7 linked regions of the Homo sapiens genome follow. The protein of the gene in region 6 purifies or fractionates together with the protein of the main gene of each other region. This does not show direct contact. Each region holds a gene or a part of one and is shown on either strand. Other genes may lie near its edges.

What was found.
Region 1: the proteins of DBN1 (region 6) and TPM1 purify together in Homo sapiens (affinity purification with mass spectrometry; 2 studies listed by BioGRID, with this or other methods). This does not show direct contact.
Region 2: the proteins of DBN1 (region 6) and HOMER2 purify together in Homo sapiens (co-immunoprecipitation; 3 studies listed by BioGRID and IntAct, with this or other methods). This does not show direct contact.
Region 3: the proteins of DBN1 (region 6) and CTTN purify together in Homo sapiens (affinity purification with mass spectrometry; 2 studies listed by BioGRID and IntAct, with this or other methods). This does not show direct contact.
Region 4: the proteins of DBN1 (region 6) and SPTBN1 purify together in Homo sapiens (affinity purification with mass spectrometry; 2 studies listed by BioGRID and IntAct, with this or other methods). This does not show direct contact.
Region 5: the proteins of DBN1 (region 6) and SVIL purify together in Homo sapiens (co-immunoprecipitation; 2 studies listed by BioGRID and IntAct, with this or other methods). This does not show direct contact.
Region 7: the proteins of DBN1 (region 6) and JUP purify together in Homo sapiens (affinity purification with mass spectrometry; 2 studies listed by BioGRID and IntAct, with this or other methods). This does not show direct contact.

The regions. Positions count from the first base shown.
Region 1 is NC_000015.10:63,052,414-63,056,436, reverse strand, and holds part of TPM1 (tropomyosin alpha-1 chain), read right to left. Parts: intron 1-4,023. UniProt on the Homo sapiens protein: Binds to actin filaments in muscle and non-muscle cells. Plays a central role, in association with the troponin complex, in the calcium dependent regulation of vertebrate striated muscle contraction.
Region 2 is NC_000015.10:82,854,993-82,859,015, forward strand, and holds part of HOMER2 (homer protein homolog 2), read right to left. Parts: intron 1-4,023. UniProt on the Homo sapiens protein: Postsynaptic density scaffolding protein. Binds and cross-links cytoplasmic regions of GRM1, GRM5, ITPR1, DNM3, RYR1, RYR2, SHANK1 and SHANK3.
Region 3 is NC_000011.10:70,401,174-70,405,196, reverse strand, and holds part of CTTN (src substrate cortactin), read right to left. Parts: intron 1-4,023.
Region 4 is NC_000002.12:54,644,304-54,648,326, reverse strand, and holds part of SPTBN1 (spectrin beta chain, non-erythrocytic 1), read right to left. Parts: intron 4,005-4,023; coding exon 3,741-4,004; intron 3,099-3,740; coding exon 2,874-3,098; intron 2,400-2,873; coding exon 2,310-2,399; intron 2,134-2,309; coding exon 1,852-2,133; intron 1,197-1,851; coding exon 1,066-1,196; intron 1-1,065. UniProt on the Homo sapiens protein: Fodrin, which seems to be involved in secretion, interacts with calmodulin in a calcium-dependent manner and is thus candidate for the calcium-dependent movement of the cytoskeleton at the membrane.
Region 5 is NC_000010.11:29,628,128-29,632,150, forward strand, and holds part of SVIL (supervillin), read right to left. Parts: intron 1-4,023.
Region 6 is NC_000005.10:177,463,545-177,467,567, reverse strand, and holds part of DBN1 (drebrin), read left to right. Parts: coding exon 1-87; intron 88-235; coding exon 236-313; intron 314-505; coding exon 506-657; intron 658-732; coding exon 733-796; intron 797-4,023. UniProt on the Homo sapiens protein: Actin cytoskeleton-organizing protein that plays a role in the formation of cell projections. Required for actin polymerization at immunological synapses (IS) and for the recruitment of the chemokine receptor CXCR4 to IS.
Region 7 is NC_000017.11:41,772,850-41,776,872, reverse strand, and holds part of JUP (junction plakoglobin), read left to right. Parts: intron 1-3,946; exon of another isoform or gene 3,947-4,023. UniProt on the Homo sapiens protein: Common junctional plaque protein. The membrane-associated plaques are architectural elements in an important strategic position to influence the arrangement and function of both the cytoskeleton and the cells within the tissue.

The sequences.
Region 1 (4,023 bases), on a different chromosome or scaffold from region 6:
CCTTGGCCTCTCAAAGTGCTGGGATTACAGGCGTGAGCCACTGCGCCCGGCCCACTTCCGTAGAGTTCAACACCCTGGCTTTACTTGCCTGTTAAACAAGAGCGTCATCACGGCCACCTCACTCACTGGGGGCCTGAAGTGTGAACTGAGACAAGACTTACCCAGGCTCAGCCATGTAAGACAATAGCAGTACAGCCAGAAATCGGACTCAAGAGTTTCACTCAACTCTTTCCTTCAAGCCACTTTATCATAGGATCCTTACAAAGGAACTTAAATAGTTTAAAATTCAGTGGTTCTAAAATACACACCACATGAAGGCCCAACACAATCCAGTAACCCCTTTTAGAATAACTGGCCTCATTGGAACAGAGCCAAGACAAATTTCCCAAGTGTTTTTGATGTAAGCCTATGATTTTTCTTTGAAGTCAAGGTTAATACAAGAAAAGTATCAAACTCCTAAAAAGAAAAATAATACAAGTACTGTTTTTACTTGGTATCTGTCACTGAAATAAAATGTTGGTTTCTTTGAGAGGCAATGATTTTTTTCCTGTCATAAGAAATTGTTGCTATGAGCCTCAGAACACTTATAAGACTATGATGGTCCATTATACACACTTGCACTGGTGGCTGTTTAAATATTGTGCATGGAAGTGGGAGATGGAATTTACTAATCAGGTAAAATATCCTCATCCACTTTGAATGTATGTTCACTAAGGGGTGGTGGGGTTTTCAGAACACTTAGGAGTTTTCTAGAAATTACAATACACACTTAGGGACCCATGGTAATAGGATAACAAATTTCTCTACACACAGCCCTGTCTTTGTCATTGAACTGTAAGCTGCTCACATCCAGAGAACTCACAGTTCTCTGCACAGAGTATGGGCTCAGTAAGATGAGTAAAACCAACCTAATTTTAATAAAAGCAACGTTCTCAGCTTATGGATCCACAATACAGAGTTGGAAATGCAAATGTAGTTAGAAACTGTGGTCATAGTCTTTAATCAAAGGAATCTGAGAACCTTCAGCTCTTTGCTCACCTAGATTTGTAAGATTTTAAATGCCAAGTTTTATCTGGGAAGAGAGGTGAGTAGGGCATCTCCAACCACGGTGAAGGACTCTATAAAAACATGTAAATACACTTTTATCTTGACAAAAATGTAGTAATTGGTTGATGGAGGCAGGGAGCAGGGCAAATGTGAAATAAATCAGAGGAAGAGCATTTACAACTGTACTGCCTACAAAGTAAATCATTATCAGTGCACAGCTGGTAAATGGACCCAGCTAGGAATTACTGGCAGATGACTGTTGTTTCTGGTGTGTGTGTGTATTGAAGGGTGAGGGTAATAGGATAACAAATCTCTCAATTATAGGGAAGTGTCTTTTAAAAACCATTAGGCTTTTTTTTTTTATTACTATTACTGGAAGGATGTATATATTAAGGATATACTTTTGGGTCAGGTAAGATTTCTTCACTTTTCTATATTTTCATTTTCCAGTAAAATTCTATTCCTTTTGAGGGTGGGGGGGAGACTCAAAGCGGAAGCAAAAACAAAGGGCAAACAAAACAAAACAAAATTTAAAGCCACACAAAAAAACCAAGCACACAAACCAAAAGCCCTACAACAACAAAAAGCCTCCATAGAGTGTCTAGGTTATGTACTCAAAAGCACTGTACACTTTCTTTTCTTTCCCCCTTTCTTATCATTTTCAATATGATGGCAAATATCCTTGTTACAGAGGCTATGGCCTATTAGAGAAATGCCAGCAAGATTTTCAAAACTTTTTTGTAGCTACCAAGTTCCAAGTTCTCTGCTCTGCTTTAGATCTGGGCCTGAACCTCAAGGACTTTGTACTCACAGAAAGACGACTGTTTATGCTTTGGGGAAAGAACCCTCTGGGTGACAGGTCTCTATCCCCAGCTCCCCACACAGCCGAGTCACCAGAAAGGAAGGAAACAGCACCTCATGTTCATTCCAGCCTTGCACATGAGATCTTCCTACCCAAAGGGCCCCTACCAATCCATCCGTGTCTTCCCTCCGATCACCCCCACCCCCATTCTTTCCCTTAGCTCTTGGCACTGTGTTTACAGAATGCTGTTGTCTAAATGCCACTCTTGTTTCCCCAGGGGCATTCTGTAGAACCTCAGACTCCTGGACATCAGAGAATATGTCCTACAGGAATACCAGCCAGCAGGGCTTCATACAGGGTGCCCCAGCAACGACTGGGCATGGAGACCAGTTTCTAGGTGCCAGTTTGTGATATAGTGGGAGGAATGGTAGGGCACACACAGCAGACCTGAGAGTGGCTGCCCCTTCCTGAGGAGGCCCTGTAAATCCAAAAAATAGGGTCTCAATTTTTTAGCTAGAAGGATCCCTAGGCATTGTCCAGATCAGCAATTCCCACAAGTGGCTGAGTGTCAGAATCAACTCAGAGATGAGCATTAAAAAAAAAACTTTCAGCTGGGCGCTGTGGCTCACGCCTGTAATCCCAGCACTTTGGGAGGCCGAGGCGGGCAATCATGAGGTCAGGAGTTCGAGACCAGCCTGACCAACATGGTGAAACCCCGTCTCTACAAAAAACACAAAAATTAGCCAGGCATGGTGGCACATGCCTGTAATCCCAGCTACTCAGGAGGCTGAGGCAGGAGAATTGCTTGAACCCGGGAGGCAGAGACTGCAGTGAGCCGAGATCATGCCACTGCACTCCAGCCTGGGCGACAGAGCAAGACTCTTGTCTCAAAAACAAAAAAAAAAAAAAAAAAATCAAACTTCCAGGCCGTGTCCCTAGAGATTCTGATTCAGGAGGTCAAAGGGGGAGGGCAGGAATCTGTACTATAAATAAACAATCCCCTTTGCCACCACCCAAAGAAGCTGGCTATTCTTCTAGCTCTTGACTAGAAACAGGCGGCAGGAGGGAACTCTGACCCTGGGCACAGAAGTATGTGGAGGCCATACAGCCATCAGTGTGAGACAGGATTAAGATCCAAGTCACTAGGCTCCCAGCATGCCGGCTCTCCACTATGTCACTTCTCCTGGCTTCCCGGAACATCACGGAAACCTTGGAACTGGCAGTTCTCACTCCTGTGTCTTTATCTCTCCTGAGATCAGATTGAGATGTTCTCCGGCCCCCACCCCAACTCCCCACAAAAGGCCTCAGGCACAGATCCTAACCAGGACTGGGAGAACAGTTGCTGCAATGCAAATCATCTGCTAAAGTGATTATCACAATCTTTTTGAAATGAGGCAGGATATAAAATTGAAAACTTCATAAAACAATGCTAATGGGTAATAGGAAGCTCACATAAGGACACGGAACATTTACTCCCTAGCCCAGAAGTCAATGCCTACTGCCCCAGAGGTTTCAGAGCAGGACAGGCAGAGGGGCTTTGAGGTTAAAGCCAGGACCTAGGAGTAGTATCTGAGGTACACCTATCTTTATGGGAAAACCCTGAACCCATGACAGGCTCTGCAGGCCCTATTATACTGGCCTAGTAGAATTTTTGTTTGGCTCGTTAGAATTCAAGATATGCTTAATTTTATAATTTAATCAGGGCCACTTTTTTCTCTTTCTTATTTTTACTTTTTATTCTGATTTATTATGCTCTATGTTCCAAAAGCCCCACACCTCTCACCTTTACTAGCTTTTATTTCTGGTATTTTTTTTTTTAAGTTTTGAGCTTATTTCAATATTTTCTAAGGTTCTTTTCATCATGGCACCTGGGGAGTCTTAAGGACCTGCTGTTGCCTCTGCCGGTACAAGCCCATAGACACATGACCATCTGTTATCTAAAAGCAGAGATATAAATAACAAGGCATTTGGGGAGGGTCAAGACCCCAGACACAAATTATTTGCAGGCATGTAAATCACTCTTAGTGTACTGAGTTAGCTTTCTTCTTCTTCTTCTTTTTTCTTTGAGATGGAGTCTAGCTCTGTCTCCCAGGCTGGAGTGCAGTGGCATGACCTCGGCTCACTGCAACCTCCACCTCCCGGGTTCAAGCGATTCTCCTGCCTCAGCCTCCCCA
Region 2 (4,023 bases), on a different chromosome or scaffold from region 6:
GAACATGTCATCCTGTGGTCTATCTTCTTAAAGAATCACCTTAGAAGAGAACACAATTCTTGGGCCGGACGCAGTGGCTCATGCCTGTAATCCTAACACTTTGGGAGGCCGAGGCGGGCGGATCACTAGGTCAAGAAATCGAGACCATCCTGGCCAACATGGTGAAAACCTGTCTCTACTAAAAATACAAAAAAATGGTGGCGGGCGCCTGCAGTCTCAGCTACTCAGGAGGCTGAGGCAGAAGAATCGCTTGAACCCAGGAGGTGGAGGTTGCAGTGAGCCGAGATCACGCCACTGCACTCCGGCCTGGCGACAGAGCGAGACTCCATCTCCAAAAAAAAAAAAAAAAAAAAAAAAGAAAACACAATTCTTCACGAATGAAGAGACAAAGCTAGGCATGAGGGCTGCAGGGCGGGCAAGGCCCATCCCATCCTCCTTACTGGCCGCCCTGCTTCCTCCTGAAAGGAGTTTCATGGGTGGACCGGGTGACCTTCAAGAATCGTATGAAAGCCATGGACGGACCTCCAGGACGCTGGGTTTAAACAAGCAAGAAGCCAACAGCTTGGCTCCGGGGAATAATGGTCCCACTGTAACCTGTGCCTTCTCAGAGCCTTTGAAGGAATCCAGATCTGAGGGCCTAGGGCTTGGAGACAGGAGAGAGTGACCAGGAATCAGTGCCCTGGGGGCACAACAGGGGTCTGGAGGGAGCTCTGGCTGGCCCATATCCCCCCGGGGTGTGAGGAGACCAGGAATCTGAGGGACACCTCTGCTGTCACCACAAAGGCCTCATGTTTCATCTGATTCTACATGCTTGGTGAGGAGGACGTTTAAAACAAAACCAAACTGGAATCAGGTTCCCCTCATTGTTCTCTTCTGACCCTCCTTCAATTTCCTTGCTAGGAGCCCACACATCTGTGGCGCTGAATGTGACTGGAGGTGACAGGGCAGAGCTGCACGTGACAAGCCCATGGGGAGGTTTCCGCCTGGCTAAGTCCTCTTTCTAAAGGCTCTTCCTAATTTTTTTAAGTAAATACAATGGTGTGTCTGAATAGATCTGTGTTATCTTTTATCCCACAACCTCAAGGACCTCGAGGACTTGGAAAATATGTACTTTCACTTTCAAACACCACTGACTGAAGAAATAATAAAATGTTATTATCTGGTGAATTCTAGAGTTGATGACTGACAATTTAAGCTAATTTAGGGAAATAGCTTCCTGCCCATTCTTGTAGTACCTCACTTGCTCATTAAACTCAGATTTGAAAACATTTATTTTTAGGGGTGAAACATTTTCACCCAGGCAGCCCACTGTGACTTAAACAACCAAAAACAGCTCTCAGTTGGGTGTGGTGGCTCACACCTATAATCCCAGCACTTTGGGAGGCCAAGAAGGGAGGATAACTTGATAAGCCCAGGAGTTTGGGACCAGCCTGGGCAACATAGCAAGACCTCATCTCTACAAAAATAAAAATAAAAATCAGCCAGGTGTGGTAGCGTGCACCTGTGGTCCCAGCTACTTGGGAGGCTGAGGCGGGGGGATCAGTCGAGCCCAGGAGTTCAAGGCTGTAGTAAGCTATGATGACACCACTGCACTACAGCTGGGATCACAGAGACTCTGCCTCAAAAAACAAATAAATAAATAAATAAATAAAGCTCTCACAATTGTCTGATGAGTAAGAAAAGAGACTGGTCACAGTTCTGTCCTTTGAAGTACCTGACAAAGAGTCACAGTCCAAAGGCAGGGGGTTGGATCTAAGGGTCACATGTGCTTTCTGGAATTCCTAGGTCAGATCACAGCCGGGCCAGCTGAGTTGGAGAGCTGGGGGCCAACTCTGTGGCGGCTCTGGCTGTGGAAGGGGACAGGCTGCCTCTGGTAGGCTCCTGAAGAGACTGTGAGTGCAGCCTTGAGTGGAACACGGGCCATGTGAGGTGATGGAAGGTTTACTAGCCATGTGACCTTGGGCAAGGAGTCACTTTGTCACTTGGAATTCAGTTTCCTCATCTGTAAAATGGGGGGAAGTTCAAAATGACAGCTTCTCTTATGGACCCAATGCTTGAGACCTCCCTAAATTCATACGTTGAAACCCTACCCCTAATGTGATGGTCTTAGGAGGCGGGGGGGCGGGTGTTGAGAGGTAACTAGGATTAGGTGAGGGCGTGAGGATGAAATCTTTATGAATGGGATCCAGGTCTTTACAAGAGTCCTCAGAGAGCTCACCTCCTCTCCCCACCTGTGAAGACACAGGGAGAAGACTGTGGTCTATGAACCAGGAAGCAGGCCCTCACCAGACACCAAATCTGCCAGTGCCTTAATCTTGGACTTTCTAGCCTCCAGAACTGTGAGAAGTAAAGGTTTGTTGTTTAAGCCACCCAGTTTGTGGTATTTTGTTATAGCAGCCTGAGCTAAGACAGCTTCTAAGATGATACAGCTTTTTTTTTTTTTTTTTTTTTTTTTTGAGACAGAGTCTTGCTCTGTCGACCCGGCTGGAGTGCAGTGGCGTGATCTTGGCTCACTGCAACCTCCGCCTCCCGGGTTCAAGTAATTCTCCTGCCTCAGCCTCCTGAGTAGCTGGGATTACAGGCATGTATCACCGTGCCCGGCCAATTTTTGTATTTTTAGTAGAGATGGGGTTTCACCGTGTTGCCCAGGCTGGTCTCGAACTCCTGACCTCAAGTGATCCAGCCACCTCGGCCTCCCAAAGCATTGGGATTACAGGCATGTGCCACCACGCCCAGCCAATACAGATCTTAAATGGGCAACTCTGAGGAGGGGGGCTTCTCGGTCTGAGGGAGACTGGGGAAAGCCTGCTGAACCCCTACCCCTGGCCAGCAGAAAGCCCTGAGTGTGCTCATGGGACCGCCCTAAACCACGAAGCTCAGCCCAGCCTGTGGGGAATGCTCCACATTCTCAAGATACAAAATCATAAGCACCGCTCATGCAGTAAATTAAAATCTTACTGATATCATTATGGGGATTGTGTTACATTTATAGATCAATTTAGGAGAAACTGATACTTTTAAAATATCAAGGCTTTTTGCCACTTCCCAACAGAATGGCTATTTATTAAACAATTATTTTATAAACCTTGAAATCATTTTAAAGTTTGCTTCACATAGATCTTGTATATTTAAGTTTATTTCTATGTAGTTTATGGTTCTAGTTCATACTGTAAAGGATCTCTTCTTCAAATATATATTCCACATGACTTTTTTGTATATAGGTGACTGAGTTTTGTGTGATTTCATATTTTAATAGTTTATGTTTTCACATGCGTTTCTCAGATGTTCAAAATTCTTTTTTTTTTCTTTTTTTTGAGACAAGAGTCTCACTCTGTCATCCAAGCTGGAGTGTGGTGGTGCAATCTCAGCTCACTGCAGCCTCTGCCACCTCCCAGGCTCAAGCAATCCTCCCAACTGAGCCACCAGAGTAGCTGGGACTACAGGTAAACACCACCATAGCTGGCTAGTTTTTAAAATATTTTTTCTAGAGACAGGATTTCATCATGTTACCCAGGCTGGTCTCAAACTCCTAGGCTCAAGTGATCCGCCTGCCTTGGCCTTCCAAAATGTTGGGATTACAGGCAGGAGCCACCATGCTTGGCCAAGAGTCAATGTTATAGATAAATAAATGATAAATTTGCCTCCTCAAAAACAAAACAAAGCACAAGCACAGGGGTGCATTCACACACACACACACACCCTCTCTCCACACATGTACACTCAATCACACACACTCTGACACTACCACACTCATGCACATTTGCCCTCTCTCCACACATTTACATACTCACAATATCTCTCTCTCACACACACACACTCTCTATTTCCCACACACACACAAATGGATGCTGATGTGGTTGGCCAGAGCAGGGCCATGAAGCCAGCTGGCCTTCCTTTCACCAGGAGACAAGAGTGGATGCTCTAAGCAGGTCCCAGTTTTCTCTCCCAATTTCCTGAAACCCTGTCCAGCAAGAAAGGCTTCTAGGGAAGTGCTGAAGGTGGAGAAAATAGAATCTGGACTTT
Region 3 (4,023 bases), on a different chromosome or scaffold from region 6:
TGTGTGGAGATCTTTTTAGAAAACTTCAGAAATCTTCCCAAACGTAACAAGGTTTTGTAATGAAATCTGAGAGGAGGATGGGAAGACTTGCATTTTACTAATAAAAAAGTTCAACAGAGAGAAACTAAAGAAATAAGTTTTAAAAGATTTCTAACTACATGATGACTTTTTGTCTTTTTTGTTTTGTTTTTTTTGAGATGGAGTTTCACTCTTGTTGCACAGGCTGGAGTGCAATGGCACAATCGCGGCTTACCGCAAACTCCACCTCCCGGGTTCAAGTGATTCTCCTGCCTCAGCCTCCCAAGTAGCTGGGATTACAGGCAGGCGCCACCACGCCCAGCTAATTTTCTATTTTTAGTACAGACGGGTTTTCTCCATGTTGGTCAGGCTGGTCTCAAACTCCCGACCTCAGGTGATCCGCCTGCCTTGGCCTCCCAAAGTGCTGGGATTACAGGTGTGAGGCATGGCGCCCGGCCTACATGATGTTTCTTATGAATGCAAACAGAAATTATTGCCTTAATTGCTAGTATGCATTTACTGTTTGCCATAATTCTTAGAGATTTTCACTTTTTATTCATTCTAATTAATGACATTATAAAATAAAATTGTTACTGTGAGCTTTTTAAAACAATAATATAAGAAAAACACTCCTTGAGAGGATCATGATATGGCCGGGAGGAAAAACCAGTATGGTGACTGTCTATCAAGACATGAGACTGGCAGCTGGAGAGCCGAGGAGGAGGCGGGCTGCATTCCTAATGAACGTACACGGTTACCGCGCAGGGAGCAAGACTCCAGCTCCCCAGAGGGTGGCCAAGCACACGACCCCTTCCCTAGGACCACACATCAGCCTCAACTGGACACCATACTGCTAGACAACACACATGGACGAATGAAATCCCCTTGTCCCTAGGAACAAGCCGGTCACAGGCAGAGTGGTTTCTCACGCATTAGGAACTAGGGGATGGTGCCTGGCTGGCCCTCCTGGTAATTAATTAATTTCCTATCTGGTTTCTGACCCAACTGTTTGCTCCATCTCTCTCCCCAGTTCCCTTCGGCAATCCTAACTTCTACAGATTGCTTGCTACATTCTGGTTACTGCAGTTATTAGTGTAATCGGCAAGCATCTATACAACTCTGCCTAAAAATTTAGCCAGGCATGGTCGTGTATACCTGTAGTCCCAGCTACTCAGGAGGCTGAGGTGGGGGAACTGCTTGAGCCCAGGAGCTCAAGGTTGCAGTGAGCCATGATCACACCACTGCACCCCAGCCTGGGAGACAGAGAGAGACCCTGTCTCATACATAAATCAATCATAAAGTAAATAATAAAAATCTACTCATGAGCAGCTAAGGATAGGCTCAGATCCACAATTTTATACTCTCAATATTGGAAATTTAAAAAACAATCACAAAAATAACCAATAGGAAATAAGTTTGATTGTTTTGTGGATCCAAAGATAAAAAGCCTCTAGAGCCCTACCTCAAAACCATACAGAAAAATTAACTCAAAAATGAACTAAAATCCTAAAAGGGTGTAAATTTTTGTGACTTTGAATTTGGCAATAGTTTCTTAGATATGACACCAAAACACTAGAGGAAAAAAATAAATTGTACAAAATTAAAAATTTTGTGCTTCATCAAGAAGGTGACAAGACGATCCTGAGAGAAAAGTATTTTGAACTGTAGATCCAGAATATATAAAGAACTCTTGGCCAGGTGAGGTGGCTCACGCCTGTAATCCCAGCACTTTCGGAGGCCGAGGCGGGCGGATTACTAGGTCAAGAGATCGAGACCATCCTGGCCAACATGGTGAAACCCCGTCTCTACGAAAAATACAAAAATTAACAGGGCGTGGTGACGCATGCCTGTAGTCCCAGCTACTTGGGAGGCTGAAGCAGGAGAACTGCTTGAACCCGGGAGACAGAGGCTGTAGTGAGCCGAGATTGCGCCACTATACTGCAGCCTGGCGACAGAGTGAGACTCCATCTCAAAAAAAAAAAAAAAAAAAAAGGAACTCTTATAATTCAATAAAAAGGACGAATAACCCCATTTAAAAATGATTGAAGGATCTGAAGAGACATTTCTTCAGAGGAGATATACAAATGGCCAACAAGCTCAGGAAAAGTTTGTTCAATGTCATTAACCACCAAGGAAATGCAAATCAAAACTGCAATGAGAACCCACCTCATACCCACTAGGATGACTAAAATAAAACAGCCAATGACAAATCTCAGCAACAGTGTTGAAAAACTGGAAGCCTCATAGACTGCTGACAGGGATGTTAAATGGAAAAGGTCTGGCAGTTCCTCAGAAGGTTAAACTCAGGTACTGTATGACTCAGCAACTCCACTCCTAGGTCTATGCCCAAGAGAAATAAAGTATAAGCACACAAAAACTTGTGCGTGAGTGTTCAGAACAGCACTATTCATAGCAGCCAAAAAACAGAAACACTCCAAATGTCCATCAACTGATAGATACATAACATGTGGTCTACCTAACACAAAGGCATTTTATTCTGCCACAAAGAGGATCCAGCAGTGACACCTGCTACAGCGTGGAGGGACCTCAAATCCATTGCGCAAAGGAAAACCACGCACAAAAGACCACATATTATACGATTCAATTTCTAGGAAATGTCTGGAGTTCACAAATCTACAGAGACAAAAGATACATTGCTGGTTGCCCAGGGCTGGGCGGATGGTGGTGGTGAGGATAGGGAGGTCATGGCTAAAAGGTACAAGGGCTTCTTTTTGAGGTGATAAAATTATTCTGAAATTGACTGTGGTGACAGTTGTACAACTGCATGAAGATACTAAAAACCAGTGGAGAGTACACACTACACAGGCGTATTGTATGGTATGTGAATTATATCTCGATAAAGCTGTTACAATACGGTTCAAAAGAAGATAATGACTCTGTCCATCCTCAACATTAAACCTTCCTTGCAAACGTCAGTGTACAAATCAAGATTGCACAAACGTGAAGTAATCTTGCTGTCTAGACAGAGTGAAAAATTCCTCTACACAATAACTTTTTTTTTCTTTTTCAGACAGTCTTGCTCTGTTGCCTAGGTTGGAGTGCAACAGCGCGATCTCGGCTCACTGCAACCTCTGTCTCCCAGGTTCAAGTGATTTTCCTGCCTCAGCTTCCCGAGTAGCTGGGATTACAGGCATGCGCCATCACACCCAGCTAATTTTTTGTATTTTTAGTAGAGATGGGGTTTCATTATGTTGGTCCAGGCTGATCTCCAACTCCTGGCCTCAAGTGATTTGCCAGCCTCAGCCTCTCAAAGTGCTGGGATTACAGGCACGAACCACCGCGCCTAAAAGCCCCCCACCAGCCTTTTTTTTCTTTTTTTTTTCTGAGACAGGGTCTTGCACTGTGGCCCAGGCTAGAGTGCAGAGGCACAATCTCAGCTCACTGCAACCTCTGTGTCCCAGGTTCAGGTGATCCTCCCACCTCAGCCTCCCGAGTAGCTAGGACTACAGGAATGCACCACCACACCAAGCTGATTTTTCTCTCTCTTTTTTTTTTTGTTTTTTTTTGTTTGAGACGAAGTCTCACTCTGTTGCCCAGGCTGGAGTGCAATGGTGTGATCTCAGCTCACCGCAACCTCTGCCTCCTGGGTTCAAGCGATTCTCCTGCCTCACCCTCCTGAGTAGCTGGGACTACAGGCACCTGTCACTACACCCAGCTAATTTTTCTTTTTCTTTTTTCTTTTGAGATGGAGTCTCAGTCTTTTGCCCAGGCTGGAGTGCAATAGTGTGATCTCGGCTCACTGCAACCTCCACTTCGCAGGTTCAAGCGATTCTGGTGCCTCAGCCTCCTGAGTGGCTGGGACTACAGGCATATACCACCACGCCCGGCTAATTTTTTGTATTTTTTTTTTTAGTAGAGACGGTGTTTCACTGTGTTAGCCAGGATGGTGTCAATCTCCTGACCTCGTGATCTGCCCACCTCAGCCTCCCAAAGTGCTGGGATTACAGGTGTGAGCCACCATACCCGGCCAATTTTTCTATTTTT
Region 4 (4,023 bases), on a different chromosome or scaffold from region 6:
ACAAAGGACATGTTGGTGCCTATCCCTGGAGACTAGGAAGGCCACTTTCCTGGGAATCCTGATCATGAACATCTTAAGAACCTCCTACACCAACAGAGCCACTGACCTCATCTCCCCTAACCTGCCCTGGTTAAATGCACAAGGCCAATTCCTTTCCAAGTCATAAAAGGCATTTACACAAAAATCCTAAAATGACTGCTTTGGAAGTTAATACAGGGGCCTGATGAGTACCACACACTCACCTCTTCTTTTTCCTCGAAGGTGTTCTAATCACTTGATATCGAAGAGTTAGGAGGTGTTATCACTTTGTTCTTCCTGGGAGCCCCTTCATTTTACAGGTCTATGCATTCTTGTCTAATGCTCCTCTTAAAACTAGTAATTACTTTACTAAACTGGATGACTTTTTCAACCCAAGTGTAAGTGCTATGACTATCTGTATCCACCATGCAAGTCAACCTGTACTTCTGATCATTTTTATTTTTTTGAGACAAGGTCTCACTCTGTCACCCAGGCTGGAGTGCAGCAGTGTGAACATGGTTCACTGTAGACTCAAACTCCTGGACTCAAACCATCCTCCCAACCTCAGCCTCTTGAATAGCTGAGTAGTACAGACGTGTGCCACCACACCCAGCTGATTTTTTGTATTTTTTGTAGAGATGAGGTTTCGCCACATTGCCGAGATTGGTCTTTGGCCCCCTGGGCTCAAGCAATCCTCCCACCTTGGCTTGGTAAAGTGCTGGGATTACAAGTGTAAGCCACTTTACGTTGACTGCCCAGCCTAGTCAACCTGTACTTTTGACTCACGACACCAATATTCTTTCAGGAGAGCCTTGGCCAACGGGAGATATTTAACCCACAAGAGCAATTTCCTAATATAACAGTTCACCCATCCTAATCATGATAGGATGTTTTAAATGATGGGTCTGTTTTAAAAATGCTTCTCAAAGATTTGCCTTACCAGCAAGTCATGATGAATGCTGACATTTTCTTTTGGTGGGGGTTAGCAAGAGACCCTAACTGAGAGGAATCGAGAGCCGGGTCTCACACTCATGAAGCAGCGCTCACCTTTCAGGATGGCTGTCGGCCACCAGGGCCCGGCTGGTCTTGGAGAGCTGATGCACGGTCTCTGCATAGTCCTCCACAGCTTGTTCTAAGATCTGGTGCTTCTTCAACATGGAGACAGCACTCTGCTCATCCTGCAAAGACAGGAGAACATCACAACCATAGCGGTCCCCTCTGGCCCTACCCCTTAAGGAGTGACAGACCAGCTGCTCAGCAGGGTAGGAGGAAGGATCAGTAGAAAGAAAAACTCCAGAGGTGCAGTACGGACAGTGGAACACAGAAGTGTTCCAAGAGCTTCCATATGGACTGGACCACAGAAGCCTGTGCAGAAGATAAACACAAGGAGAACGCAGAATGAGCAGGGCCCCTCTCAGAGAAAAGCTTGGGCAGACCAAGTGTGCCTGGTTCGCTGGAATTCCTCAAGGTCCCTCAAGTATGTAAATGGCAGCATTCCTGGAACCTTGCAATACTTTCAAATTGTCTCCAAGCCATCCTGTATTTTGTAAAGTTTAGGGAACCTATAAATAGACAGCAGGAAGGACTCTGGCATATTTCAAAGATGAAAGGATGAACCTGTTCTTAATGGCACACTAGGATTCAGATAAGAAAATGCTGCACCAAAGGGAAACCAGCAGCTGGATTTCAGACACCTTCATGCACATGGTGTCCCCTTAACACTCAAAGGCTACAAGGGAAGTTTTTATACAGACAGAGCCGCCAGCAGAAAGTGTGCCCAGGGTTTGAATCTGAGGCTCTCCTGGGACAGGGATGCTTCCCGCCTCCTCTCACCTTGGCCTTCTCCTCTGACATCATGTACAGCTCCTGCTCGCTCATCCAGGCTTCGGCCTCAGCAGCGTCAAAGTAGTACTGCTGGGCCCTGTGCGCCTCCTCCAGCCGCCTGTGGCGTTTCTCTGTCTCCTCAATGAGGAGACCCCACAGCTGCTTCAGGTCGGCAAGCCTCTGTCTGATGGCCTCAGCGCTGAGGCTGCTGCTGTCAGTGACGATGTTTTGGCTCCTCTCAAAGATGTCGTCAATGCGAGGCTGGTGCCCCTGGATTTCTTTCTGGAGGGTCTGGAGGGAGCGGAAAATACACACAAAGGCTTGCTAAATGGCAGCCGTCTGCTGCTTATGTCAAGCTGTTAGGGCCAGAAAGAAATAGCAAGGCTTCAAAGCTCTCTGCCATTCCCAGTCTCATAATTTAGAGCAATTATTTATCAGACAGAACTAGCTCGAGCAGAAAGGCTTACCTGATTTTTCTTTATTAACAGCTGCACAGTCTGGAGGTTGTGGCCATGATCCGTGGAAGTTGCCAAAGGCATCCTCTCTCCAACCCACAACTGGGAAGAATTTTAAATAAGTGGTCAGATCCACTCAGAGGAACAAATATACGACACAAACGAGCAGTGAGGGGCAGTGAGGGACAGCAAGGGTGAGCTTCAGAGAGTGCTCAGCCCCCTCGGGAGGGCTGTCTGGGGAAGCACGCCCTTGTTCTCCGAGACAGGGCTAGGGAGAGTCTTTCCAACTCTACCTCATCCTCAAGGTCAAACTCACTGTGAGTCCTCATTACTTTTAAAAAGTCTGTTTTAGGGCCATTAAAATCCTACAGTATCCCTAGATAACGTGAGAGGACCAATGGAGTTACATTTAGGGTGAAAAGGGAAAGAAACTTTAGACCATCCAGAGCGTGGACTTTGGCAGCTCAGCTTGCCAACGTGGCCCAAGGTGAGGATGACTGAGAAGTGAGAATGTGGGCTTTAGCACAGGCAAGGGGGCTCGTGGAAAAGCCATGTGTGCAGTAGGGGTCGACTCACGATCTCGTCCTCCACATCCCTGTTGAACTGATGGATCTCTTTGGAGGCCAGCAGGTTATGCTTCCTCTCGTTCAAGGGCTCCAGCAACTCCATGAACTTGGTCTGCACGGTGAGGCGCTTGCTGTCTACCTCGTCGGTGCTCTTCCCTTCCTGACTCAGGGCCTGGGCTTGGCTTTGGAGCTCTTCGATCTCCTTCTTCCGCACTTCCATCTGATTCTCCAGCATCTGAGGGCAGAGAAGCAGCCTCAGCGCTCAGCACAGACTATCTTTTGCAGTGACTGGCTCTAAGCAGAACTGCTGGGCCTGGGACTTGGCCACACCGCAAAGCCAGCCATGGGAGCCACTCAAACATTTTGCCACTGACTTGCTTTTCAACATCAATGGAACTGTTTTCAAGTAAATCTGAGGTAAATTCATTTGCCCTTAAAGCCCTCTACGGTGATATAATATAAACAGTTATTTTTATTACCTATAAAGTGCCTTGAACAACTCAGATAACTGTCACAAATCACGATGTTAAACAACAAAGTATGAGAATATTTCTTTCGTGTAAAATGCAGAATTGAATGAGATGAACATTTATTTAACTGTTAAACGGTGATAATACCCATTAACTAAGAAAATTATCAATCCCATACACAGACAGCCAACACCCAATACTCCTAATACTGTGTCTTTCTAGTTTGGACAAGTGTCTTTCTATTCTGGAAATGTTCTACGATGCTGTTAGAGCAAGTAATATTTTGGGTTAAAAATGCCTTCCCATGGAAGGTGGACTCCTGATAATGCAGTGGGTGAGAAAAGACTCTAAGGACTATGGCTGTAAAACAGAAATACACCCAAGTCCATGATGGCTTGTCCACTTGCCTGTTGCTTTTTCAGCAGGATATTGACACTGGTCAGGTCTTTGCCATAGTCATCAGACTGAATCTGACTCTCCAGGCCGTGCAGCCATTTGTCTAGATCTGCACAGCTCTGGGTGAAAAGTTCGGCCTTGTTTGCATCAAAGAGCCGCTGGGCCTTTGTCTGGGTAGTGGATTCAAGGACTTCCCACATTTTATGTAAACCAGTGAGTTTCTCCTTCACCACAGCTTCCGTCTCAGGCTTTTCTGAAATGAGCTGCATTCCTTCCTGGAAAACAAAACCAACA
Region 5 (4,023 bases), on a different chromosome or scaffold from region 6:
AACTCAAACAAAAAATTCCTAAGAAAATTTATATCCAAAACCACTAAAACATTCAGATGTCATTTTCACTTTCATAACCTACCTCTTAATTCAACATATTTTAAGCTACTGAAAATCAAGTGCTTTCCCATTTGGGTTTTGGCTGGAGCGGTTTGTTTGTTTTGGAGTAACAGGTGTGCAACTGCAACATGTATATGTCTTAAATTTTTGGCTGAGATAAATTAGATATAATGTTTCAGAATGTATGAAAGAGTATTTACTTAAAATTTTGAAATATTTAAAGTATGTGAGATCTTAAAAACCTAAAAATATCAATATGGTTTTTCTATTCAATGACTGTATCTATCCATCCAAGCCTAAGTTATTTGCCAACTTTCCATGCTCAGAACGTAATTGAAAGTCCAGAAAGAAACGAGAGGCCTCTGATGAACCTAAACACAGTTCACAAATCGTAGGTGCATTATTAATAAAAAGCCCTTTGGGTCTTCGCCCAGAACCGAATTGTTCTTTTCTATTGATAGCAGATACAGAGGATACAAATTCTCACACAGCTAATTGGGAGTTAATTTCTACTTACAAACAGAAAATCAGTTCTAAAAGCCAAATGAATGCATTCCACCTGAAATGGACATGTTGAACAATTCACCTTATAAAGAGGAACACCAGGATTTTTTAAAAAATCTTAAATGGACCTTAAGAAGGAAAGCTGAGCAAGCAAAGAGACAGAAAATGATTTTTAAAATAAGGCCGCCAGGAGACCTCAAGATCACAGCAGGGTGTGGATGCTGAGTATGGAGGTCAGAGCCCCATCACCCTCACTAGACCTGAGATGGGATTCTCACGGAGAGGGGTTCCATCCCAGGGAGGCTGCGGGGACATCAAAGTAACCAGGAGGTCTTGAAAGGTGTCCAAGAGGAGAAGACAGAAGAGCTCCTGATCAGTGCTGAGGAGTGAGTGGGCAGGAAAGAAAGAAGTGATCGCTTGAGGTCAAGGGGAGCTTTATTTAGAATGGATGAAACCTGAGGATGTTTTCAACACAAGGAGAAGCCAGGAGAAGAGCAGAGTGGAAAATAAGACAAACGGGAGAGAATGGTGTAGGTAGAGAGCGGGAAGGGGTGGCATGAAAAGCCTAGAGGAACAGAGGAGCCTTGAAAGACTCCTTCTCCTCCTCGGAAGCCCCCTTCGAGTCCCGCACCCCAGCTGGTTGCTTCCATCTCAGGCACGTGGCAAAGAATTAACCTAAGGCGGCTCAAAGCAGGTCCTCAGACAGGAATTAGCATCACCTGGATCCTGTTTGTTGAATCTCTAAGTCCAGTGCAGACCTACTGAATCAGACGCTGCAGTAACAAGACTGCAGGTGATTCCTATTAAAGTTTGGGCTGCACTGGCTAAAGCAGCGGTTATGAATACAGGCACTGAAGTCAACTAGATCTGGGTTCAAATCCAGCTGGATTTGGGCACATGGTATGTGCCCAAGCTTGGGCAAGCATTTCTAACCCTCAGTTTTTTCCTCAGTAGAATGAAGACAATTGCACTAATATTTCTTGGGGGCTACTGTAAAAATTAGAGTCCGGGCGTGGTGGCTCACACCTGTAATCCCAGTGCCTTGAGAGGCCTTAATGGGAGGATAGCTTGAGGCCAGGAGCTCAAGACCAGCCTGAGCAACATAGTGAGACCCCTGCCTCTAGAATTTTTTTTTTTAATTAGCTGGGCATAGTAGTGATTGCCTATAGTCCCAGCTACTCGGGAGGCTGAGGAAGGAGGAATGCTTGAGCCCAGGAGTTCGAGGCTGCAGTGAACCATGGTCATGCCATTGCATTCCAACCTGGGTGACCAGGCAAGACTGTCTCAAAAAATAAAAATAATTAAGTGATATATTGTAGAGGTAAAGAGTGTGGCATTAAGTCTGGCACACAGTAATAATGGATGGCATGTTATTATTGTTCATCCCTTCTACTCTGACTGGTAAAATAGCTCCATTACATCCCTGTCCGAGACACTCTGGGAAAGAGGCTGCCAATGAGAGGGAATACGCTATAGGCTTCTGCATCCCACAGGACCCACCCGGAGCTCTGCACAGGGAAAGTGCCCCAAAAATATGGACTGAAATGAATGTACCCAGGGCTGTGACATGGGCAGACCAATGATCCCAAAGCAAATATGGAAACTATTTCTTTTACTATATTTACACAAAAACCAGTTAGACATAGGTTATAAACTTGTTTGGGATTAAAGGATCAACTTTCAGAAGGGGACAAGCACATTAGGAGGAAAAAGAATGCCTCTTTCAAAACCTCCTACAATAGGGAGTGTCTCTAAGAGGGACAGAGATCTCTCTGAACCAATACTAAAGAGCCCCTGAGATCAACAGTGCAAACTGCTCCTGAGATGTGTGACCCAAGTTGAAGTTGACTGTATGGGTAAAACACTTAGGTCAAATTGCACCACTAGATGAGTTTCTTCATTTTAGGCAAAGTTCCAATAATGAAGTGACTGACTTCATGCGGCACACCTTAATTTCCCGGTTGGCAAAAGCACGTGTACAGAAACCCCATATACAGAAACCCCATCGGACTTGTTACCGCAACACGAACGTTTCTGCTTGCATTGTCATAGATGAAGGAAAAAAAAGGAGAACTTATAACACAGAACACCAGCTTCTACTGTGAGTAATATAGGATGAGGGCAAAAGTACTGGATGGATCACAGCCAAATTTCGATATGAAGAACCCACAAGTCGTTACAATTCAATCCGTTCAAACAACTCACATTTCTGGATTGCCCACTGGGCTAGACCCTGGGGGTGGTAAGAGAAGTGAGACCCAAGCACCTCACTGGGTACCCTGCTGCCAAGGAAAGGGCCACCAGGACCTAGTGACTGCAGCCCTAGAGTACAGGCTGGAGTCGAGGCCCAGGAGGCCAGAGGCATGTCAGAGGAAGCTTCTGGCACATCTCCTTTGATATTGCTTCCCTGGCAGGCAAGAGAAGACAACATTTTGGGGAGACTTGCCAACAGAACTCCAGGGGCATGAAAGACCCTGAAGGGGAGGCTACAGAGCCCAGGCTTTTGCATGTAAGCAGTGAGGAACGATGAGGGTTTGGCCCTGGCCGAGTGCAAGATGAGATCTTTGTTTAGGAAGGTCATTCTGTGGCTAGACCAGACGGAGGAGAAACCGAGGGCCAAGGGATCCATTAAGGGCAAAGCAGTAGCCCAGGTAAGAGATGGCGAGGCGAGGCCAGGCGCGGTGGCTCATGCCTGTAATCCCAGCACTTTGGGAGGCCGAGGTGGGCAGATCATGAGGTCAGGATTTCGAGACCAGCCTGACCAACATGGTGAAACCCCATCTTTACTAAATATACAAGAATTAGCCGGGCGTGGTGGCGGACACCTGTAATCCCAGCACTTTGGGAGGCCGAGGTGGGCAGATCATGAGGTCAGGATTTCGAGACCAGCCTGACCAACATGGTGAAACCCCATCTTTACTAAATATACAAGAATTAGCCGGGCGTGGTGGCGGACACCTGTAATCCCAGCTACTCAGGAGGCTGTGGCAGGAGAATCCCTTGAACCCGGGAGGCAGGGATTGCAGTGAGCCGAGATTGTGCCATTGCACTCCAGCTTGGCTGACAGAGTGAGACTCCATCTCAAAAAAATAAAAAATAAAAAAGATGGCGAGGCTTAAGAGGAGGTGGTGGGGCAGAGGCCTCGGGGACCTAAAGGGAGAGGAGTCAAGGGTGACCAGAAGATTCCTAGTTGAGTCACAAATCAATGAAGCCCAGAACTGCTGGAAAGTTCTAGACCTACGGATACTCCCAGTCACAGCAAGGCACCCTGAGATCAGCGCTTTAACATAAAATTGCAATGAGTGTCCTAAAATCCCAGGCAGCTGCAGATTCAGGAGATGATTCCAAGGCTGCCTTTGTACCCTAACAATCACAAGGCTCCTAGCAGCTTACTCTCCATAACGCTCCATGTAGCCCGAGAGCCCTGCATGCTGGAGCTCACCAGACATCCTTATAAAA
Region 6 (4,023 bases):
CAGCGGCTCTCTAACGGGCTGGCGCGACTCTCCAGCCCTGTGCTGCACCGACTGCGGCTGCGAGAGGATGAGAACGCAGAGCCCGTGGTTAGTGTGTGTTTGGCACCCGTGGGCTCTGCCTGCGTGGCCTGGTGCCCGAGTCTGGCCTGCCCGGTCCCTCTTAGCTCTCACCCTTTAGGTGTCGGGGGTTCCTGGGGCATTCAGCCTGCTTATGCTGGGTCCTTCGACACTGCAGGGCACCACCTACCAGAAGACGGATGCAGCTGTGGAAATGAAGCGGATTAACCGAGAGCAGTTCTGGGAGCAGGCCAAGGTATGGAACCCTGAGCCCGGCCTGGCTGAGCCACCCCTCATGGACCCCATGGGGCAGGTCTGAGTCCCTCACTGCAGTGGCATGGCCCATGCCACGTGCCCCGCCCCCAGCGCTGGGTTAGGGAGGGGCTGGAGGGGCAGGGTCCAGGCGCCTAGGCTCGGGGCCTACCCTTGTTCGCACCGGGGCTTGCAGAAGGAAGAAGAGCTGCGGAAGGAGGAGGAGCGGAAGAAGGCCCTGGATGAGAGGCTCAGGTTCGAGCAGGAGCGGATGGAGCAGGAGCGGCAGGAGCAAGAGGAGCGCGAGCGGCGCTACCGGGAGCGGGAGCAGCAGATCGAGGAGCACAGGTGAGCCTGCCCGCCCGGAGCGCTCCAGGGGCCCCCGGGCGCACCCTGACGGGTGCTGGCTGCTTATCGTTCCAGGAGGAAACAGCAGACTTTAGAAGCGGAAGAGGCCAAGAGGCGGTTGAAGGAGCAGTCTATCTTTGTAAGTTCTTTGCCAAGGCTCCCGGTCTCTGGGTCAGGGAAGTGAGAATGGTCCCTGTGTTCCTGGGCCTTGTGGGGAGATCAGTGGCTCAGGGACAGTGGTGGCTGTTCTGGGGAGCTGCATGGGCACAGGGTGCCATGGAGCATGAGGCCTGGCACCTCATCACGTGGGGCTCTGGCCTCTGGCCGTGGAAAAAGACTACTTTGGAGAAGCTTGTGCTCTAGATTGGAAGAGAAACTCCATCTAGACCCAGACCCTCACTGACCAGGCTCCCCCTCCCCTGCCCTGGGGTTTCTCGGCGATTAGACACTGTTCTGCACTCTGAGGGGCCACAGGAGTGAGGCAGGCGGCATGGGTGAGCCTGGGCCAGTGCTGAGCATCTGCAGGCAGTGTGTACCATCTCCTTGGGAGCAGCATCTCCCTGGGAGCAGCCCCTTTGTTCCAGGGGTACTGTCTGAATCTCCACACATTGGGAATGGCCCGTAGGTCCTGTGGATTGGTCCCTGAGAATCACAGCAGAGTCACATCTCCATGCTTTGAATTTAGTATTTTGGAAATAGCTAATGTCATTCAGGACTGAGCATGGCTCAGTTCAGGAAGGGAGGTGGGTTGATACTCATCTGGATTGGGACTGTAATGGGCAGATGCATGGCTGTGGGGACTCAAACGGGCTCCGGAGTCACCCACAGGAGGCTGAGAGAGAGGAGGCAAGACAGTCCTGCAGGCAGCAGCATTAAGTCACTCCAGTCACATCTGCCCTTGGATGGGGTGGGGATGATGTGTGGCTGGTAAGCTCCATCCTCAGTCATTCATTCAACACACACCTGCCACCTGCCACATAAAGAACATGGTGGAGAACGAGCTGGGTAAGATCTTTTTTTCATAAGTTGATTCATGTATTTTTTTTTTTTTTTTTTGAGATGGAGTCTCACTCTGTCGCCCAGGGTAGAATGCAATGGCGTGATCTTGGCTCACTGCAACCTCCATCTCCCAGGTTCAAGCGATTCTCCCGCCTCAGCCTCCTGAGTAGCTGGGATTACAGGCGCACACCATCATGCCTAGCTAATTTTTGTGTTTTTGTAGAGACTGGGTTTCACCATGTTGGCCAGGATGGTCTTGAACTCCTGACCTCGGTTGATCTGCCCGCCTCGGCCTCCCAAAGTGCTGGGATTATAGACGTGAGCCACCGCGCCTGGCCACATGTATGTAACTGTGGCAAAATACATAAAATGTACCATTTCAGTCATTTTAAAATCTGCATTTCATTAAGCGGCATTAAATTCATTCACATTGTAGGATAACCACCACCACCATCCATTAAACACAAATTCTGCCCTTCCCCACTCGCCAGCTCCTGGCAACGACCATTCCACTTTCTGTCTCTATGAAGTTGACTACTCTGGAGACTGCCTATCAGTGGAATCGCACGGTGTTTGTCCTTTTGCGTGTGGCTTATTTCACTTAGCATGATGTCCTTAAGATTCATCCATGTTGTAGCATGCATCAGAATTTCCTTCTTTTTGAAGGCTGAATCATATTCCATTGTATGGATATACCACATTTTATTTATCCTTTCAGAGTGAGGTTTTTTAAAATTTTTTTATTTTTTAAATTTTTTTGAGACGGAATCTCGCTCTGTCGCCCAGGCCGGAGTGCAGTGGCGCCATCTCAGCTCACTGCCAGCTCCGCCTCCCAGGTTCACACCATTCTCCTGCCTCAGCCTCCAAGTAGCTGGGACTACAGGTGCCCGCCACCACGTCCGGCTAATTTTTTGTATTTTTAGTAGAGACGGGGTTTCACCATGTTAGCCAGGGTGGTCTCGATCTCCTGACCTCATGATCTGCCCACCTCAGCCACCCAAAGTGCTGGGATTACAGGCGTGAGCCACTGCACCCGGCCTGCCTCCCAGGTTTAAGTGATTTTCCTGCCTCAGCCTCCCAAGTAGCTGGGATTACAGGCGCCCACCACCACGCCTGGCTAATTTTTGTATTTTTAGTAGAGATGGGGTTTCACCATGTTGGCCAAGCTGATCTTGAACTCCTGACCTCAGGTGATCCACCCGCCGGCCTCACAAAGTGCCGGGATTACAGGCATGAGCCACCGCACCCAGCAGATAAAGTTTATTATTTATTTATTTATTTATTTATTTATTTATTTATTTATTTATTGTCTTTTTAGTAGAGATGGGGTTTCACCATGTTGGCCAGGATGGTCTCGATCTCTTAACCTCATGATCTGCCCTCCTCGGCCTCCCAAAGTGCTGGAATTACAGGTGTGAGCCACCTCACCCAGCCAAGTTTATTTATTTATTTATTTTTATTTTTTTGAGACAGAGTCTTGCTCTGTCGCCCAGGCTGGAGTGCAATGGCACAATCTCAGCTCACTGCAACCTCTGCCTCCTGGGTTCAAGCGATTCTCTTGCCTCAGCCTCCTGAGTAGCTGGGATTACAGGCGTGCACCACCATGCCCAGCTAATTTTTGTATTTTTAGTAGAGACAGGGTTTCACCGTGTTGGTCAGGCTGGTCTCGAACTCCTGACCTCGTGATCCACCTGTCTCGGCCTCCCAAAGTCCTGGAATTACAGGCGTGAGCCACCGCACCCTGCCTGATAAAGTTTATTTATTTATTTATTTATTTTTATTTATTTATCTTTTTTAAGATGAAGTCTCACTCTTGTCCCCCAGGCTAGAGTGCAATGGCGCCATCTCAGCTCACTGCAACCTCTGCCTCCTGGGTTCAAGCGATTCTCCTGCCTCAGCCTCCCAAGTAGCTGGGATTACAGGTGCACGGCTCCATGCCCGGCTAATGTTTGTATTTTTAGTAGAGACAGGGTTTCACCATGTTGGCCAGGCTGGTCTCAAACTCCTGACCTCAGGTGATCCTCCCACCTCGGCCTCCCAAAGTGCACTGCACCCAGCCCTGATAAAGTTTATTTTTTTGCTAACATTTCAAACATACACACATGCAGGTAGACAGAATAGTGTTGTGAACCCCCTGAGCTGATTTATTTTCACCAGTTATCAACATTTCAGGTAAAGTCTGAAGGAGCTTACCATTATTTTATAGTCCCATCTGGCCCTTCAAGTATAGTTCACGTGAGAGTGACAGTGGACATTCTAGCAGGTCAGTGTGGTACCCTTTCAATTTCAGGTCCTCTAAGGAAGGGAATATGCGAGAGACTTTGGGATTTAGCACTGTGAAATGCTTTCTCTTGGCTTAAGGAGCTG
Region 7 (4,023 bases), on a different chromosome or scaffold from region 6:
CACCACGCCTGGCTAATTTTTTGTATTTTTAGTAGAGATGGGGTTTCACTATGTTGGCCAGGCTGGTCTCAAACTCCTGACCTTGTGATCCACCCACCTTGGCCTCCCAATATGCTGGGATTACAGGCGTGAGCCACCGCGCCTGGCCCCCTCACCTTTTTGTTTTGAGACACGGTCTCGCTCTGTTGCCTAGGCTGGAGTGGCATGATCCTGGCTCACTGCAGCCTCAATCACCTGGGCTCAAGTGATGCTTCAGCTTCCAGAGTAGCTGGGACTGCAGGTGCATGCCACCATGCCCGGCTAATTTCTTTTTATTTTTTGTAGAGACAGGGTCTTACTATGTTGCCCAGGCTGGTTTCGAACTCCTGGGCTCAAACGACCCTCCCACCTCCGCCTTCCAAAATGCTGGGATTATAGGCACGAGCCACTGCGCCAGCTGGCTTCCGCCTCCTCTGCCATCTCTTTGTTCTTCTAGCATGAGAATGCATGCCTTTCCTGTGGACAGAGGGCTTCCAGAGTCACAGTGACAAAAGAAGTCACTTGATCATCTCCATTTTACAGATGAGAAAATGAGGCTTAAGGAAATTGAGCCCCTCTCCTCACTCAGAATCCTGTGCTCACCCTGTCGCTGTCTGAGCCTGGGGACCTGTGTCTGCACAGGGTGCTGGCCTCTAGCCTAAGGAACCTCTGGGGGACCCAGCCCTGCCCTGCTCCGCCCTGCTCCTCTGTTCCCAAATGCAATGCTTCTGAGTCTGCTTCCAGCACGGCCTCTGGGGTAACCCACTCCTGTCCTTATTTCCAGGTGTCTTGGCACTTGGTGCCCTGCAACCCAGCCTAGATGTGCCCATTGCTGACTGTCCTTGGCAGGTGCCGGCTGGGGAAGGAGCCTGGTGTAGCTCTGGTGGGGCTATTTTTAATGTCAGGGCTGGGCCACACTCTGCCAGGTCAGTCTTGGATTTAGGGTGCCCGGTGCCAGCCCTCTGGGTTGGCTGCGCAGAGGAGGAGGCAGGAAAGAAGGGTAGGGGTGCACCCAGTCTAGCCTTATTACTTGCTCACACTTACCTGGTGTGGGTCCCATGGGGAAGGGTCCTCTGCACCCCCTCTCCAGGGCCCGTCTTCCTTCTTCCTGTCCTTGGGCTGTCCCTACAGTCTCTGATCTGGCTTCTTCCTCCCGTGCTGCTAACAATAGAGCACGCTCTAAACAAAGGCCCCCCATTCAACTCAGAAACCCGCCCTGTCTCTGTCCCTGCCCGTCTCTGGCTGGGATGAGTGGGCAGGGCCTGCGTCTGTCTCTCTCGCTTCCACCCTGGCTCTGTCCAGGGGCATTGCAGGAGGTCTGACTCCAGGTCCAGGGTGGAGAGGGACAAGACTGAACTGGGTGTGGCCCCCTCCACCCTGGGAACTGTAAAACCAGCACTTTTGTTTCTTGTGAGAGAAGTTCCTTTGTTCTCCTGGGCAGTAGGTAAGGAGAAGGGTGGGGCTGGTTGACAGTCCTGCCTGAGGTCTGACTTCCAGCCTTCCTGTTGCAGGAATAGCTCCCGTGACCCCTTCCTCAGGAGGAGTTCTGGAGTGTGTCCTCTCTCTGAACTGGTTCCCAACTCTGACGTTGCCCACCCCCAGCCTTCTTCTGTCTGTTGTGGGAATCCTGTTTTTTTATTTCTAGAATCTTAGACATCAACATTCCTTTGAGATCCAGGGACACAAGGACACCCAGCAAGTTTGTGGCAGAGCTGGGACTAGAACCTGGGACTCTTTTTTTTTTTTTTTGAGACAGGGTCTTGCTCTGTTGTCAGCCAGGCTGAAGTGCAGTGGCGCAGTCTCGGCTCACTGCAACATGCACCTCCCTGGTTTAAGCAATTCTCCCGCCCCAGCCTCCCGAGTAGCTGGGATTACAGGTGCACACCACCATGCCTGGCTAATTTTTGTACTTTTTTAGTAGAGACAGGATTTCACCATGTTGACCAGGATGGTCTTGAACTCCTGACCTCGTGATCTGCCCGCCTTGGCCTCCCAAAGTGCTGGGATTACAGGTGTGAGCCACCGCACCCGAACCTGGGACACTTGATTTGCAGCCGAGTGCTCTGCTTCCATCTGCAAGCACCTTGGTCCCCTCCTCCCCTTGGCAAGAGGGCTCAGCTCCACCCAGGCTTGTCTAGTGGACTGGATGCTGTTCCTACCACAAGTGCTGCCATTTTCTCAGTGTGCAGGCACAGCTTCTTCACCTAGAAATTGGGAATAAAGCCAGGCACAGTGGCCCAAGCCTATAATCCCAGCACTTTGGGAGGCTGAGGTGGGCGGATCACCTGAGGTCAGGAGTTCAAGACCAGCCTGGCCAACATGGGGAAACCCGGTCTTTACTAAAAATACAAAAATTAGCCAGGCGTGGTGGTGCACACCTGTAGTCCCAGCTACTTCAGAGGTTGAGGCAGGAGAATCACTGGAACCCAGGAGGTGGAGGTTGCAGTGAGCCAAGATCATGCCACTGCACTCCAACTTGGGCGACAGAGAGAGATTCTGTCTCAAAAAAAAGAAAGAAAGAAAGAAATTGGAAATTATAAAACATCTGCCAGGGTTGCTTTGAGGGAAGAATGAGATTCACATAATAATAAAGGCCACTGGGCGTCCACCCCCCCACCCCCCCATGGCATCCTGTGGCTTCTGTCTCTCCCTGGGTAGCTGTCTAGCCCTCAGCAGTCTCCTGGCGGTTGACCTGGGCTGGTGGGGGTGGTGAGGGGCCTGCTGAGGAAGTTCCTCAGCTTGACTGTGGTGGTCCCTTTAGATGTGAGGCCGGCAAGGGGTGACCCTTGTTTGGAGTGAGGCCCGCTTCCCTCTCCCTTAGCTGAGAAGCCCCAGGGTTAGGCACTGTCTATGCAGGAGGGCCCTCTGGCTGGGATGCAGTGTGTTTGTTGACCAGAGCTGCAGATGTCCAGCAGTGTCCAGATGTCGTTCAGCCTTGAGCCCAGCAGAGCGGCATTCAGTGGGTTATTGCTACCGTGTTTACTTGTACACTTGCACCTTCCTTCTCTCCTGGGGGCAGCTTCTCTTCCAAACTCTCCTCTGCTCTCTCTTGGGACTTGCCCTTGGGGCAGGGAAATGGTTGGGGAAGGCGGCACAGCACGAGGAGCTCAGGATTTTAGTAGGGTTTTCCCATGTCTGCCTTCTCCGAGCACCCCGCCCCCCGCCCCCCACCATTGCCCCTGTTTCCTGCCAGTGGCCATTCCCCTCTGTTGCTGGGGAAGGGGTGTGGGGAAGGGGTGCGTGTGGAAAGGGGGCTGGTTGGGGGGGCTCCTTCTGAAATAGCTACACTTTCGAATGCCTGGGAAGCAGCTGTGCACATCTGGCGGCCCGAGCCTGTCGTCTGGGGTCTGCCGTCTGAGGTGGCGGGACTGCTTCTGTTTAATCAGCCTGAAACTCTGAGTCACTAGGGATTGCGGGAGGAGAGGAAGGAGGCAGCTGGGAGCTGGCCTGGCCCCTGCCTCTGCCTGTTCCGGGTGTGCTCACGGCTGCCTGCCATAAAAGGCTGGGAGACCTGCAGGACCATTCGTCATCCTCCTGGAGGGCCAGGGCGGCACTGGGGCAGTCACAGGGAAGACTTATCCTTGGTGATCTTTGTTCCTGGGGTGGGGCCAGGTTGCCCCAGCCACCCCACCCTCACCTGGTCCCCATCACAGTGAGACAACCCGGGTGCTGCCTGGCTTCATGGGTGGACCAGCCTGAGTTCTGCTTACTCACTGAGGCTGCGCCGGGATGTGCAAAGACTACAGACCTTGGTGCCCTCACACCTGGTCCCAGTCCCAGCTCTGCCATTTCTAACCTCAGTTTCTGCATCTGTACGCGGGGGACCAGTGCATGGGCTTTGAAACCCGCCCATGAGCATGACGGTGTCTGTGAAAGGTCTGGCTCGTAGTAGGCCCTCATGGGATCACGGCGTCCATTCTCCCCGCAGCCTCTGACCTCTGCAGGTCAGTTCCCAGGACAGTGGAGCCAAACACAGACCAAGCGGGAAGTTCACCTCCCTGGTAC